Regions from separate parts of the Homo sapiens genome. Here region 1 is linked to region 2. The links come from fine-mapping of genetic effects on gene expression. Tissue or cell type: sigmoid colon. Region 2 holds a variant in brackets; the other region holds the start of a gene. All regions are shown on one strand. Distances are between the middles of the regions.

Evidence for each region. PIP is the estimated chance that this variant, and not a neighbour inherited with it, causes the effect.
Region 1: it holds the start of DGKQ, and the variant in region 2 is fine-mapped to the expression of DGKQ in sigmoid colon (GTEx, PIP 0.99).

Annotation. Positions count from the first base shown.
Region 1 is chr4:969,819-977,818 of GRCh38, forward strand. DGKQ (diacylglycerol kinase theta) reads right to left here and starts at 3,751. Exons shown (of 23, transcript NM_001347.4): 1 at 3,394-3,751; 2 at 1,175-1,254. The coding sequence starts at 3,664. It overlaps LOC124900645 (a long non-coding RNA gene), which reads left to right. Exons shown (of 2, transcript XR_007057989.1): 2 at 1-123. RefSeq lists enhancers at 1-418, 2,255-2,895 and silencers at 3,130-3,579, 3,680-4,019.
Region 2 is chr4:900,088-908,087 of GRCh38, forward strand. GAK (cyclin G associated kinase) reads right to left here. Exons shown (of 28, transcript NM_005255.4): 5 at 4,550-4,692. Among named protein-coding and RNA genes, the nearest start is that of GAK, 28 kb to the right of the region's middle. The variant A/G (reference allele first, on the strand shown) is at 3,789.

The DNA.
Region 1 (8,000 bases), 70 kb after region 2:
GCCAGGATGGTCTCGATCTCCTGACCTCATGATCTACCTGCCTCGGCCTCCCAAAGTGCTGGGATTACGGGCGTGAGCCACAGCGCCCGGCCGTTAAATACATCTTCTAAATTTCCTATCATGCATACAGTTGAAATACATACTTATATTTTCCCAATTTAGCAAAGTATAGAAGACATTAAAATCAATTTTAAAAAGCGGCAGCCTCGGGCCGTCCACATGACGAGGGGCCGCCCAAGCCAGTGTGGAATCACCAGGGTGTCGGCCACCACCAGGACCACCGGCCTAAGGCCTCCTGCTCACACCCGGGGAACTGCATCATTAGGAACAGGGCGTCAGACATTAGAGGGGACGGCGCAGCCGGATGCCCGCCAGTGGCAGGTGTGCCTGCTGGCCTGGCTTCCCGTCCTGCTGCACACCCGGGCCTGCCTCGCGGCCTGCGCCCCACCTGCAGCCTGAACGCATCAGGGAATGCGGACTTGGGGGGCCTCAGTCTGAAGACGGCGACGCTGACAGCTGAGGGAGGAATAAGCCTGGCCCTTCCTACATGTCCCTGCTGTCACCACTGTCACCAGAGAAGGGAAGTCCCCTGTGCCCTGCAGTGACCTGGGCCAGTCACCTCCCTGCCCCACCCAGAGCCCTTAGAGGGAGGGTGGTGGCCAAGACACCCTCAGGCACCCAGGCTTCCTGCCTTTGCTTTTTATTCAAGCTTCCTTGAGATGCTTGTGGGTTCACACATAGCTGTGAGGAAACTGAACAGACCCCCTGAAGCCTTTGTCAGCTCCCCTAAGTGTGTGATCTTGCAAACTGAGGTCACGCCAGATGCCGAAATCTCCATCCCCCCCAGGAGCCCTCACGCTGCATGTCACAGCCACGCCCACTTCTCCGCCTGGAAACCTCTCTACATCTGTGCTCCCTTTAGTTTCGTCATTTTGAGCACATTCTATGGACAGGATCTTGCTATTTGCGACCTCGGGGACTGGCTTTTATCACCATCATTCCCTGCAGATCCATGCAGGGTGCTCAGCCTTTTAATCCCGAGCAGTATCTGCCCTTTGCCTTTCAACTGCAGGTATCACTAACGTCTGACATGAAGGTTTTCAGTGCCTCGACCCTACGAGAGCTGACACATCCCCCAGCCTCTTGCAGGTGCAACACCCAGCCCCACACTCACCCGGACCAGGCTGGGTGCCACACTCGTGCACGGGATCCTCACGTGCTTCAGGCACTTCTCATGAGACATGAAATTGCAGACTGTGGGAATGAGCACTGTGTGAGTTGGCCCCTGTCCTACCCAATGGCTGTCCTACCCAGGAAGTTAGAGGCCCCAGGGCAATGACTGCCATACCCACCATGCTGCACCAGGGGCCCTGTGGTCCTCGAGTTCCCCCACCACCCTGCCCACTCATTGGAGAGAGCCTGCAGCCCAGGAGCCCAGGAGCAAGAACCTGGGTGGTCCTGACCATCCTGGAGGACAATGAGTGTATCCTCTCATCCAGAGAGCAGTCCCTCCCCTTCGCACGTAGGCCCAGCACTCCTCCTGCCTCTGCAGTTGGGCCTCTCAAGGGGCAGCCCTGGGCTCACCAGGTTCGCCAGGTGGCAGGGGCTTCTCGGCCTTCGGCAGATTGGCTTTACCAAGGACATCTGTGTCTCACTCCCCCGAAACTACGCATACCCCTAATTGTCCCTGCTACGTGCTGTGCACCGTGCCTGAGACCGAGAGCCACCCAAGGCAGGTGAGGGCTCTGGGAGGCAGGAGCCGCTGGGGAGTGGACAGCCCCAAGCCTCCCAAGGAGCTCTGGCTGTGTGCATAGGACCCAGGGAGCACCTGAGCCGGCGGGGTGCTCAGGAGGGCATAAGAGGAGCAAGCGCCACACCCCAGCAGTAAAACAGACAGGAGGGTGGGGCCGGGGCAGAAGGGAGGGCAGGAACCCTGGGCTGGGGCAAAGGCTGCGGGGGCTGGGAGTGGGCAGGGCACCCAGTGACACAACTGCCAAGACAGCCCCGGGTGAAGGTTGTGCCACGGAGCCCCAGGCAGTCCAGCTGGGACAGGGAGCTCTTCCAGAAGGCCCCGCTGGTGCCGCCCTTCACCTGCTGCAGCCCTAGCCACCCCAGTCTCCAGATGGGACCGGGAGAAGCTTCTCCTGGCAGCTTAAGAGAAAAGCTCTGGAAGCAGGCCAGGGTCCACCGAGAGAAGGGGGGACAGGCAGCACCCAGGTCCCTCCTCTGCCATGGAGACAGGGCCTGCTCACCCCACGCCCCACGCTTGGGTCTCCTGGCGGGGAGGGTGCCCTCCTTCCCATACCGCTGCTGGCCCCTCTTCCACGGGTGCTGCCCAGGAGGGCCCTTTTGCCCCCTCCGAAGGGGGAGGGGACCCGGAGTCTGGCCTCAAGTCGGGAGCTGCCTCAGCCACACATGCACACTCCCCACCTCTGGGGAAGCCCCTGGCATCCCCAGGCAGCAGGCATGGCTGTGCCATGCTCTGACGTGACAAAGAAGCTGGCGGGCCAGGCCACCTTGTGCAGCCCTGGGGGTCAGAACAACCATGCCGTTTCCACCACAGACGACATCCCCGTGTGAGGGGACAGTCTCCTCTGCGGACCCTGACCTGAGTGGACCCCTATCCCCAGAGAAAGGCCTGAGGCTAAGGATAGCCCCTCCCACCTCAGCGTCCCTGGCCAGGACACAGTAAGTGTCAAACGTCCAGAACTCCGGTCCTGTCCCTCGCTCCCTCCAGAGGCTGGGCTGTGGTCCCCCTGTCCCTCGCTCCCTCCAGAGGCTGGGCTGTGGTCCCCCTGTCCCTCGCTCCCTCCAGAGGCTGGGCTGTAGTCCCCGGGGCCCGCCTGCTTGCCGCGGGGGAAGATGAGAGCCAGCCCTGGGAGCACCCGGGCCCAGAACAGGGAAGGGCTGTCCTCACCCCAGCAAGAGCTGGGCAGCTGGGTGGAGCAGGGCTGGGACACGCGCACCGGGACGGCAGGGCCCGGCCTGGCTCTCCAGGAGGCTGGGACTCTGGGCCACAGCATGAGAAGGGCTAGGGCCAGGGGCCCAGGCCAGCCCTGCTTAGCCACACCTGCTGCCCCAGCCACTGGGAGAGGAAGCCGGCCATGGGGACCCCAGCTGAGGTCCCGCTCGCATCAGGCACAGCCCCTGGGTCGCAGCCATCGCGCGGCACTATGGAGATGCTGTCCGCACCTCCCAGGTGAGGAAGCCCGCAGCCTGGAGCGGCCCCACGGCGCACAGGCCCCGGCCGCCCCACGAAGGCACGTCCCGCGAGCAGGGCTGGGACCCCGCCCTCCACTCCCCCGAAAGCGCCGGTGCCACCTCCGCTCAGGCTCCCGCCCACGGGGCAGAGGCAGGGCTGCAGCCGGGTAGGCATCGGGCCCGGGCGCTCACCGTCGCACAGGAAGCCGGCCAGCCCCCAGATGAAGTCGGAGCAGAGGTGGCAGAAGGTGGGCTTGGTGAGCGTCACCTTCCGGAAGCTGTGTCCCGGCGCGGCAGCGGGGCCCGGGGCTCTGACGCCCGCCCGCTCGGGTCCCGGCCCCGGCCCCGGCCCCGGGCGCGCGCGGCCTCCTGAGCCCAGCACGGGGCTGCAGGCCGGGCTGCCGGGGCGCGGGGAGCCGCCGCCCAGCCAGGCGCGGGCCCCGGGCTCGGCCGCCGCCGCCATTCCCGGCCCGAGCGGCCCGAGCCCCTTTAGGTCCGCGCCGGGGGTACAGGAGCCGCCGCTCCACGGCCCGGTACACTGCTTCCGACTGCGCCTGCCCCACTGCGCAGGCGCGGGCCGCGGGGCGGGGCGGGGCGCTGCTGGTGGGCGGATCTGGGGGCTGGCGGGGCGGGGCCTGCTAAGGGTCGCAGCCGTGCCCCGTCGATGAGCGGGGCTGGGGGCGGGCCCTGTGATCGGGCGGGGCGGGGCCTGCTAAGGGGCGGGGCCTGTGCGCGGAGGCCGCTCGCGAACCAGCCGTGGGGAACTGGTCCACGTGGGCTCGGTTTGACCGCAGCCGGGCCAGACTTCTCCGGACGCCGCACGCGCGGCGTTGTACCTGCGGGGTCCCGGCCCGCGGCTGCGCAGACAGGCGCCTCCCACGCGAGACGCGGATGCTGTCCGAGGCCCCCGGCCGCGCAGGACGCCCCCGGCGAGGGGCAGCGCTGCGGGCCTCCCACAGTGGGTCCCGGAAAGCGGGGTTTGCGGTGCTTGGGCGGCTCCGTCCGTGGGGTCTTCGCACGCGCAGACTTGGCCCTGCCCGAGGCCCAGGACCCCCGGCGCCCGACCGCTGTCCTCACTGCAACGGGGGACCCGCCTGCGGCCCGGGGCTGTCCGCTCGCGACCCCCACCCGGGCCTCACGCCGAGCGCCCAGCTCTCCTGCCTCGTGCGCGCCACGGGTCTTGTTCAGGTGGCGCTGGTGTCCTTTGAGAGCCGCGTCCACGCGGGTCACCCCTCCCCGCCGCTGGCAGCAGTCTGGGTCCTTGCCCCCGTGGGCCTAACTGTGGATAGGAGTCTGCGAAGCGGGGGACCCCACCCCGGGCCACCGAGCGGGGACCTGCAGAGGGCAGGGCTCCAGGGCCATCGCAGCAGGCGGTCTCAGGGGGCAGGAAGAGCAGGGAAGGGCCTGTGGGGAGACGCCTGAAAGGGGCTGGGGGCTGTGGACTCTGGAGGGAAGGAGCCGGGAGACCTGTCCTAGGGGCTGTGCTGGTGAGGGCACCCAGACCACAGGGGATTCCAGGAATGGAGGGTGAGCCGGGGACCCAGTCTGAGGAGGGAGGAGCAGGCCCCTGAGATGGTGAGGGGGGAGACGCAGTCCTCAACCAGGGAGGATTCTGTTTGTCCAGAAGCTGCTGGTTGAGCTGCTGGGGTAGGACCCTGGGTGGACCCCAGGGTAAAGGGAATGCAGCCAAAGCTTCAGGGAACCTTCACCCTCCAGGAGCTGCGCTCTGGGACAGACAGCACCCTGAAGAATGAGGGCTGCCTGGGGGCAGCAGGAAGGCGTCCAGGCGGAAAGCCGGAGCAGAGGCCCTGTGGCAGGGTGCTCCGCAGAAATCCTTTCCTGATGCCCACCTATGCTGGGAGGCCCGGAGTCACCACCCCTGCATTCCCTGTCTCCTGTGCCAGACCCCACCCCGAGCCTGCCCTCAGCCAGGCCCCAAGACCCCCTGTGCCTGGGCCCTGGGAGAGCTAGGACCCAGCCTTGTGGCCCATGAGGAGGAGGTGGCTCACTGAGCCCGTGGTGCTCATGGCAGTGAACCACGGTGCAAACTGCAGCTGGCTTCTGAGGAAAAACTGTTTAAGGACATACCTTTCTCCATTTAGGAGACAGTGGAGAGCATCAAAAACATCTTAAAAAGGAAAACCCTCATCTACCATTTCTGCCAGAACTTTCTGCTTTCTGACGCACACGTTAATTAAAATGGCGGGCAAAGCATCCTTCCAGCAAACACTCCACGGACTTCCTAGAACGTCCTCCAAAGCCACCAGCAGCTTCTCGCTGAAGGGGCCTTAAAACTTTGAATCCGCTCTCCCTCTCCCTCTCCCTCTCCCTCTCCCTCCACGGTCTCCTTCCACGGTCTCCCTCTGATGCCGAGCCAAAGCTGGACGGTACTGCCGCCATCTCGGCTCACTGCAACCTCCCTGCCTGATTCTCCTGCCTCAGCCTGCCGAGTGCCTGCCATTGCAGGTGCGCGCCGCCACGCCTGACTGGTTTTCGTGTTTTTTTTGGTGGAGATGGGGTTTTGCTGTGTTGGCCGGGCTGGTCTCCAGCTCCTAACCGCGAGTGATCCGCCAGCCTCGGCCTCCCGAGGTGCCGGGATTGCAGACGGAGTCTCGTTCACTCAGTGCTCAATGGTGCCCAGGCTGGAGTGAAGTGGCGTGATCTCGGCTCGCTACAACCTCCACCTCCCAGCCGCCTGCCTTGGCCTCCCAAAGTGCCGAGATTGCAGCCTCTGCCCAGCCGCCACCCCGTCTGGGAAGTGAGGAGCGTCTCTGCCTGGCCCCCCATCGTCTGGGATATGAGGAGCCCCTGTGCCTGGCTGCCCAGTCTGGAAAGTGAGGAGCGTCTCTGCCCGGCCGCCATCCCATCTAGGAAGCGAGGAGCGCCTCTTCCCCGCCGCCTTCCCATCTAGGAAGTGAGGAGCGTCTCTGCCCGGCCGCCCATCGTCTGAGATGTGGGGAGCACCTCTGCCCCGCCGCCCTGTCTGGGATGTGAGGAGCACCTCTGTTGGCCACAACCCTGTCTGGGAGGTGAGGAGCGTCTCTGCCCGGCCGCCCCGTCTGAGAAGTGAGGAAACCCTCTGCCTGGCAACCGCCCTGTCTGAGAAGTGAGGAGCCCCTCCGTCCAGCAGCCACCCCGTCTGGGAAGTGAGGAGCGTCTCCGCCCGGCAGCCGCCCCGTCCGGGAGGTGAGGGGCTCCTCTGCCCGGCCGCCCCTACTGGGAAGTGAGGAGCCCCTCTGCCCGGCCAGCCGCCCCATCCGGGAGGTGAGGGGCGCTTCTGCCCAGCCGCCCCTACTGGGAAGTGAGGAGCCCCTCTGCCCGGCCACGACCCCGTCTGGGAGGTGTGTCCAGCGGCTCATTGGGGATGGGCCATGATGACAATGGCGGTTTTGTGGAATAGAAAGGCGGGAAGGGTGGGGAAAAAATTGAGAAATCGGATGGTTGCCGGGTCTGTGTGGATAGAAGTAGACATGGGAGACTTTTCATTTTGTTCTGTACTAAGAAAAATTCTTCTGCCTTGGAAAAAAAAAAAAAAAACAACAACTTTGAATCCCAGCCTGGACCACGGCACCCGCCACAACGGAGCTTGTCTGCCAGAGGGACAGCTTCTTCTGTGCAGGCCCGTCCACGTCTCCAGGCCTGTGTCTCCCACTCCCTTTCCTGTCTGTCTTGGTCAACGTGGGCTGCCGTGACAGAAGACCACAGACTGGAGGCTTAAACCACAGGAAACGTGTTTCTTACTGCTCTGGAGGATGGGAAGTAGAGATGGGGGTACTGGCATGTTTGGTTCTGGTGAGGGCCTCTCCCCCCACCACTCCCCTGAGGAAACCAGGGTCTAAAGTCTAACCATACTTATGGGTAGAACTGTCCCCCCAAAATTCTATGTTGACATTCCAACCCCCAGCACCTCAGAATGAGACTTGTTTGGAGACAGAGTCTTTACAGAGAAAATCAGGTTAAGGTGCGGTCACAAGGGCGGGCCTCACCCCAGCATGAGGCGCCCTTATGGAAAGGGGATCTGGAGACAGGCATGCAGGGAGAGGCCGTGCGAAGATGAAGGCCGAGGTCAGGGCGGTGCTTTCTCAGGCCAAGGATCACCGAGGGCTGCTGGCCGCCACAGGGAGCTGGGGAGAGGATGGGACCGGTCCTGCCTCGCAGCCTCGGAGGAGCCGGCCATGCAACCGGATCCTAGACTTCTTCACTCTGAGCGTGTGCATGAGTAACTGCGGAAGCACGGTGGGTATTGATTCTGGGGCTTAAACACATTCAGCAAGCTGGTGTATTTGCAGATGCAGGATCTCTGAGCAAGGGGGCTGGCCGGTGCATGTCACATGTGCCTAGACCCTCCATGCAACGGCTCTTAGGGGGTCCTAGTTTTCCTGCCATCCGACTGACCAAGCCTTCCCTTCCACAAGGCGTATGTCCTGTTTAAGCACCTGCCTCCCCTGAGGTCTTAAATAGGTTTCCCTATTGGGAGGGGAGTCTTTTTACGTTTTACATTTACATCTGTGAGCCAGCCAAGACTGATCTGGGGGTGTCGTGTGAGGTGGGTCCAGCTGCTTGTTGGGGGCGCTTTCCCCACAGCTCTGGGAACCTCTGCCACAAGGCAGAGAACCAAGTAAGCACAGGGCTGGAGCTTGCACAGGTTTCGGGCAGCCTGAAGCCAATGGGGATGTCTTTTTTTTTTTTTAGACGGAGTCTTGCTCTTGTTGCCCAGGCTGGAGTGCAGTGGTGCGATCTCCGCTCACTGCAACCTCTGCCTCCCAGGTTCAAGCGATTCTCCTGCCTTAGCCTCCTGA
Region 2 (8,000 bases):
ACACGGCCACTGAAGGCCCAGGAGTGCCCATCCCCTCGCGTGTGCCCGTTCCCATTCTACAGCCAACAGAGACGAAGCTGTGCGCACAGCAGGACGATGCACAGGGCAGGCGAGTGGGGCCACCTGTGCCCGTTCCCATTCTACAGCCAACAGAGACGAAGCTGTGCGCACAGCAGGACGACGCACGGGGCAGGCGAGTGGGGCCACGTGTGCTGCCTGCCCCTCCGCAAACAGCCGTCCAGACTCCCACGGCGGAGGCCACAGGTGAACACACGCGGGCTGCAGGGCTGGCCTGGGTTCCCGCCACGCCGCTGTGGAGCAGCAGCAAGGCCAGTGCTGTGAAGTGCAGGCCTGGCTCACAGACACGGATTCTTCACCAATTCAACCCTTCTGTTTCTGTTCTCCTTAAAATACACACTCAAGCCCCGCTACACGACCCATCACACTTCAAAAATGCGAACCAGGAGGGTCTCGGTGTCATGAGAAAATCCACCACTCAGAGACTCCTCAGGAAGAACCACCCAGACAGCAAACAGCACCTTCCACGGGCAGGACTGGCCCCTCATGGAGCCCTGCAGCCCCTTCCGTCAGAATGGGGCCTCAGGCGCATGGGTTTCTGGAAACCAGGGGTCTTGCTTGCAACCTTGAAGAAGCTTCCCTCAAAAGCAACCCTGTGTGCTGGGCAGAATGTACTTTTAGAAAAGTAAAATACAAGGAAAGAAGAAACAGAAGGAAGAGAGGGAGGGAGGAAAGGAAGGAGAAGGGGTGAAAGGGCCTGGGGCATGGCTCAGGAGCAGGCTCCACAGCGGTGGCCATGGGAGCGAAAGGGCCTGGGGCTCAGGAGCAGGCTCTATGGCGGTGCCCACAGGCTTCTGCCATGGGGCATCTGTCCAGTCGGCCACCTTACACCCTGGCATTCTAGGCCCTCTGAGTTCAGGGGACAAACGAAAAAGGCCACACTTACCCATTTTCAAAATCTACGTGAAGACACCTGTGCTATAAAGTAGGAGTGTACAGCCAAGTAGAGAAAAGGCAGCCCTAACCAGAGAAACACAGAGGGAAGCTGCCTGCCAGAGCCTTGGCCCTGGGTGGGCTGAGGCAGGCTGAGGCGGAATGAGCCTGTGCAGTTAAGAACAGCTCAGCATGGGTGCCCACGGCTTAGGCACCCCCACCCAGGGCACACAGGGAGAGCCACGGCCTTGGATCCCCCACCCAGGGCACACGGGGAGAGCCACGGCCTTGGATCCCCCACCCAGGGCACACGTGGAGAGCCACGGCCTTGGGCCTCCCACCCGGGGCACACGTGGAGAGCCACGGCCTTGGATCCCCCACCTAGGGCACACGGGGAGAGCTGGGGGGCTCTGAGGCCTCCTAGGCACCCACGAGCAGACGCTGGAGAGGAGGCGGGGCCCAGGTGGCTGCATGGGCAGACATGAGCTGATGCACGGGGTGCAGGGCCAGGTAGACACAAGGATACAGCTCCCACCTCAGGTCACACAAGGTCAATTCCAGATGAACGAAACCTCTGGACACAGGCCAGGTAGATTTCAGCAGCTGGAGGAGCAGCTGAGGCGGGTGCTGGGAGCAGGATCTGAAACACAGCTCCGTGCTCCACAAGAGACGCCACGGGGCTGGGGCCTCACTGGCCTCCTCGTCCCCTTGGCCTGGGCAGTGGCGGGGAGCCAAGGACAGCACAGGGCATCCTCCACAAGCCGTGGCCAGAGGCGCCGCTCCCGATTAGCGAGGTCTGAGAGAAGCCACACTTTGGGAAAACCAGGGAAGGCTGAGAACAGGAGGGCAAGAGACAAGGCTCGGTTCCTCCCACCTCACTGCGGATAATGGTGTCAAAACCACATAAAAAATGTCCTGGCCGGGCGTGGTGTCTCACGCCTGTAATCCCAGCACTGTGGGAGGCCAAGGCGGGAGGGTGACTTGAGGTCAGGAGTTCGAAACCAGCCTAGACAACATGGTGAAACCCTGTCTCTACTAAAAGTACAAAAATTAGCCCGGCGTGGTGGCATATGCCTGTAATCCCAGCTACTCGGGAGGCTGAGGTAGGAGAATCGCTGGAACCCAGGAGGCAGAGGCTGCATGAGCCGAGATCGTGCCACTGCACTCCAGCCTGGGCAACAGAGCAAGACTCCGCCTAAAAAAAAAAAAAAAACAGAAATGTCCTCACGTCCCCAGAGACATGGACAAAAGTATCTGGGAGTGATAAGGCTTTAAAACTTTGGCAGCCTGGGAGCGGTGGCTCACACCTGGAATCGACCCCTTTCAGAGGCTGAGGCGGGTGGATCACTCGAGCTCAGGAGTTCTGGACCAGCTTGGGCAACATGGTGAAACCCCATTTCTACTGAAAATACAAAAACTAGGCAGGCGTGGTGTGCGCCTGTGGTCCCAGCTACTCAGGAGGCTCAGGTGGGAGATCACCTGGGCCAAGTCGGCCGAGGCGGCAGTGAGCCCCGTCAGTGCCGCTGCACTCCAGCCTGGGCTGTAGAGTGACTGACTCAAAAAAAAAAAAAAAAAACCCCAAAAAACCTCTTCAGCAAAAGCCTCAGCACGGAGGACGAGGCCCACCATGGGCAGGCCAGGCACAGGCTTCACAGATAATGGAGAAGCCTCACAACGTCCTAGGTTTTTTAAAAAACACAACAGCAGGAGTGAAAACTGGGCCACAAACCAGAAGACGCCGGCAGCACAGGCGACACTTAGCAGATTATGAGAATACACAAGCTGCTCCAACGAACCAAACACACAAGCCAGTGGAAAATCTTTGAAAAAGGCAAGAAACAAAAGGAAGTTTACTGAAGAGCAAGACCCGAATGACTATAACAAACATTCAACTTCATTAACATCAGGAAAAGGCAAAATCACAACCCGTCAGACTATACTCCCCACCAGGCCAGCCAAAATCAACACAGGCAGCTCAGGGCATGGACAGCCCACGGGGCAGGAGTGTCCTCTGTGGGGCTGTGGGAAGCAGCCACATCACATGGAAACCGCGCAGTGCCGGCAGCAGCACGGAGCGCAGGCCCAGCCCCGGCCCAGAACCACCTGTGTGGCGGTGTGGTGGGCAGGGATGGAGCGCGAGCCCAGCCCCAGTCTAGAAGCATCTGTGTGGCAGTGTGGTGGGCAGGACGGCCCTTTTACATGCAGCCAGTGGCTCATGCCCACATCACGCCAACCCCGGGATGCCACGCCTCGGAGAAACCCGTGGTGACAGGAGAGATGGGCAGGAGAGTCTGCCGGTGAACGGAAGGGGAGGTGCAGTGGGGGGACAGTCAGGAAGTGCAAAGAGCTCCCCTCAAGCTGAGTAGGCAAGGGGTCCGGCCCCCGACCCCAGCGCCTGAGACAGGGCCAGGCAGAGGAGCGCCAGGCTTCCTCCCAGCTCCAAGAGGCCGAACCAGGGAGGCACTGTGGGGTCCAGGACTGCCCAGGGGCCAAGGAAGGGGCACTGGGTGAGCAGGAGTTGGGGGCCTGGGCCAACACCACTGGGGGGCTGAGGAAGGAGCGTGGGATGAGCAGGAATGCGGGGCCTGAACTGACACCACCAGGGGACTGAGGAAGGAGCGTGGGGTGAGCAGGAGTGCGGGGCCTATAGTGACACCACCGGGGGGCGGTGGGGGGGCGGCCGAGGAAGGAGTGTGGGGTGAGCAGGAATAGGGTCCTGAACTGACACCACCGGCGGGCACCCTCGTCCACAGCTCCCCACGGAAACTGGAGTGAGCAAGCATCCAGCATGGGGACCTGGTATTCCAGACGGAAGCTCCAGGCTGTGAGCACCCCCA[A/G]CTGGGCGTGAAGGCCCCCAGCAGGGAGGCGGGGCCATCCCGGGATCTCTGTCGGCAAAGGCCTGTGAGACAGATGCTAATTTTCTTCAGGGCTGGAAAAGCAACGTTTCTGGAAGATCCGCTTCCACTGTTGAGAGGCTCACGCACATCTTCTAGGTGAGATGGTGTAGCCTCACCTGCTCTCACCCCTGCATCCTAACTGAGCGGGAGCCCCCCACAGAGGCTGTGAACCGCGTGTGGAGGGAGCCACTACCTTGTGGTCCCTGTGGATGATGGGCGGCTCCTAACCGAGTGGGACCCGCACACAGAGGCCTTGGCAGCTGCGTGTGGAGGGAGCCACTACCTTGTGGTCCCTGTGGATGATGGGCGGCTCCTAACCGAGCGGGACCCGCACACAGAGGCCTTGGCAGCCGCGTGTGGAGGGAGCCACGACCTTGTGGTCCCTGTGGATGATGGGCGGCTCCTAACCGAGCGGGACCCGCACACAGAGGCCTTGGCAGCCGCGTGTGGAGGGAGCCACTACCTTGAGGTCCCTGTGGATGATGGGCGGCTCCTAACCGAGCGGGACCCGCACACAGAGGCCTCAGCAGCCGCTACCTTGAGGTCCCTGTGGATGATGGGCGGCTCCTAACCGAGCGGGACCCGCACACAGAGGCCTCAGCAGCCGCTACCTTGAGGTCCCTGTGGATGATGGGCGGCTCCTAACCGAGTGGGACCCGCACACAGAGGCCTTGGCAGCCGCGTGTGGAGGGAGCCACTACCTTGAGGTCCCTGTGGATGATGGGCGGCTTCTGCCGGTGCATGTGCTGCACGGCGCGGCACGTCTGGTAGAAGATCTTCAGAACCGTGTCGCACGAAAGGGGGCCTCGAGATTCCATTTTCTTCAAAAATTCCACCAGCTGCCCTAAAAGAGAATGAAACTCACATGGAGGCAGGAGAACAGGGTCCGGAGACAGGGAACCTAGGGCTGTTTCACGCGGACTTCCCAGAACTAAATGGAAAGGAAAACCCTGACTTTCCACACCTAAGTAACAAAACGACCAGAGGTGACTCCCTTTGACCTTTTCTGCCTGGCAGATGGGAAACTGCCTGACTGCAGATCTCCTCTTCGTTTGCAACTCTGTAACTTCACCCTGTCTTCTGATTGCTTTTCGTAACCAATCAGATGTTTGCACAGGAGTGTGACCTTCTGGTTGGCTGCTTTCTGCAACCATTAGGCTGATGGCGGGCTACCACTTCGTTTACATGAGGTGAGCACAAAGTGGCCAGTGGGAAACCTCTAGGGGGTATTTGGACCCGAGAAGATTCTGCATCTGGGCCCTTGAGCCGCTGCTTGGGCCACCCCCACACCGTGGAGTGTACTTTTGTTTTCAATAAATTCCCGCTTTCGTTCTTTTGTTGCTTCATTCTTTCTTTGTTTCGCTGGGCGTTCTGTCCAGTTTGTTCAAAATGCCAAGAACCTGGACAACTTGCAGTCACGACTCTCTACGGTTAACATCATCACCGTGGAGCAATCAGTGCTCTGCCCTCCCTGGCCCCAGGCCACGCTACAGACTCTGCCACGCCGCGCCACGCTAGGGGCTCCGCCACGCCCCATGCCATGCTACGGACTCCGCCACGCCCCATGCCACGCTACGGACTCCGCCACGCCCCATGCCACGCTACGGACTCCGCCACGCCCCAGGCCATGCTACGGACTTCGCCACGCCCCAGGCCACGTTACGGACTCCGCCAAACCAGGCCACGCTTCGGACTCTGCCACGCCCCAGGCCATGCCACGGACTCTGCCACGTTGGGCCACATTACAGACGCCACACCACACTTTGAACTCTGCCATGCCCCAGGCCATGCTACGGACTCCGCCACACCCCAGGCCACGTTACTGCAGACGCCACCACACCAGGCCACGCTGCCTTTTCCAGCCACAGTCCCAGTTAAGCCCACCCTGAGTGCCGCTCCCACCTTTCCTTCCTTCAGCTGCTGCAGAAAGGGCTGCAGGTATGAGGATGCCCACCTCAGCCCCGTGTGTGGGACCACCACCCAGTGGCAGGGGTGGGCTCGGAGCAGCCCCACAGTCAAGTCACACACAGAGCAGAGGCCAGGGGGCAAGACGCCCAAGCGTCACCGAAGCAACAACCGCGTCAGCATCCCAGCAGCTGAGCTGGCATGCCGTTAACGTGAGAACCACATCGGCATCCCAGCAGTTGAGCTGGCGTGCCGTTAACATGAGAACTACATTGGCGTCCCAGCAGCCGAGGTGGCAAGCCATTAACGTGAGAACCACACTGGCATCTCAGCAGCCGAGCCGGCGAGCCGTTAACGTGAGAATCACATCTGTGTCCTGGCAACCGAGCCAGGCATGTCATTAACATGGATACAAAGAGAAATGACTACAAATACACAAGTGCTCAAACCTCTAAGTGAACACTCAGTGTCCTCAGATGACAAATGATCATTCTCACATTCACGACAGTATCAGTGCCTGTGCGTGACCCACACCCCAGGGAGCCCGTCCTGCCATGGCTGGCACCTTCCAGGCACCCTAGCCCTGGCCCAACCAGGAAACCAGGGATGTGGGGCCGGGGCAGCACGCAGGGCTGAGGACCTGCTGGGGACTGAAGCATTCACACTGCCAGTCACCCCAGCACCCCTATGCAGCCCCCACAGACGTGCAGACCCAACCCATCCTGCTCCTACCCTGATCTTACCCTGGGTCTTGCCCACTTCAGCTGGCCACAGTCCATGTGTGGCATCATCCCTGGGGCCTCTGCATCTTGTGCCCCATCTTTTCAGCCCCGTGCTCCTGCCTCTGCTCTCTACAGAGCAGCCACCGTCACCCTCTGCTCATCCCACTCCACACCCCTGAAGGCCACGACCCCTGCAGCCCCAGAGCCAAGGCCAGTACCACCACCCACGGAACCCACACTCAGGGTCTCCCCCACGCTGCCAGAGCTTGCGCTCCCAGCCACACTGGCCTCCCTTCCTCCCTGCCTCAGGACCCCTCACAAGCTGCTTCTGCGGCCAGGATGCCTCCCAGACCGCCCCTTCTGCTCACCTCCCAAGGAACCAACTCTGCCCACACCACCTAAACGTGCACCCTTCTCCTGGGACTCATTCTCTCCCTGGCTCTTCGAGCCACCCAACCACCTGCCATGGGCATGGATCAGCTGTGTCTGGCGAGTCACTGAGCCCCCGATGCCTGCACACAGCAGAGCGTGTAGCCGACTCAATTCCACTGACAATGAAGGCATGGTGTGAGAGCCGGTCGGGACCTGCCACAGCTCAGGCTGGGCCACGCTAGAATCGACTCACAGACCGGACCCACCTGCGTGTCCCCAGCACAGCCCAGCACTGCCCCCACCTGCACCCAGCTGAGGGGCCCTCCCACTCCCCCAGCTCTGCCGGCCCTGGCCCTCAACCCCAGGTGAAAGCCCTCTCAGCCCTCACCACAGCTCCCTCAAAAGCTTTGTGCTGACCCTCTGAGAAACAGGGGGGCTCTCAGGAAAAATGAGGGGCACCCATAGAAGGAATGGGGTGCTCAGAAAGAGAGGAACAGACCCGGGAGAGGCTGAGGCCAGGCCCGGGGAGTCAGAGTGGGGGTGACTTGCCCTCTACGCTGGCCATCATGGATGGGCGAGTCTGTTTCAGTGGTAACTGGGCCCCCTGTTCAGTGCCTCATTCTCAGTGAGAATAAATGGGGTTTTTAAAAGTAAAAATTCTGTATGTGGCTGAGTGGGGAACCGGTATGTGGCTCTTCCCTCAGAGGACACTGGAGGGGTTGCCTCATGGGAGGGACCGGGCACATCCCCGGAGCCCGACCTCCAGGCCTCCTCCAGTGAGCCCTGAACCTGCAGCTGCACGGGGGAGCCCACATCCCTCCCGCTTCTCAGAGATGCCACGGCTCTCCCCTGGCACAGCTGTGCCATCCACAGAGCCCTGCAGCTCAGCTCTCAGCCGCACATGCTGCTCCAGACAGGCAGTCCCCAGGAGTGAGCTGGCGCGCGCATGCGTTAGTCTGCCTCGTGTATTTATGACTTGAGGGGCTGGGCCCGGCCCCTCTCCTTCCCACACCACCCCATGCAGGGTCAGCGATGAGCCGCTGGCCCCGGCCCTGTCCCCGCCGCTCCCTCGTGCACATATCCTGGGAACACACTGGACGCCGAGCAGCTTCAGTTTTCACACCCGTCCTGCTCAAGCCTTCCAAAGCCGGAA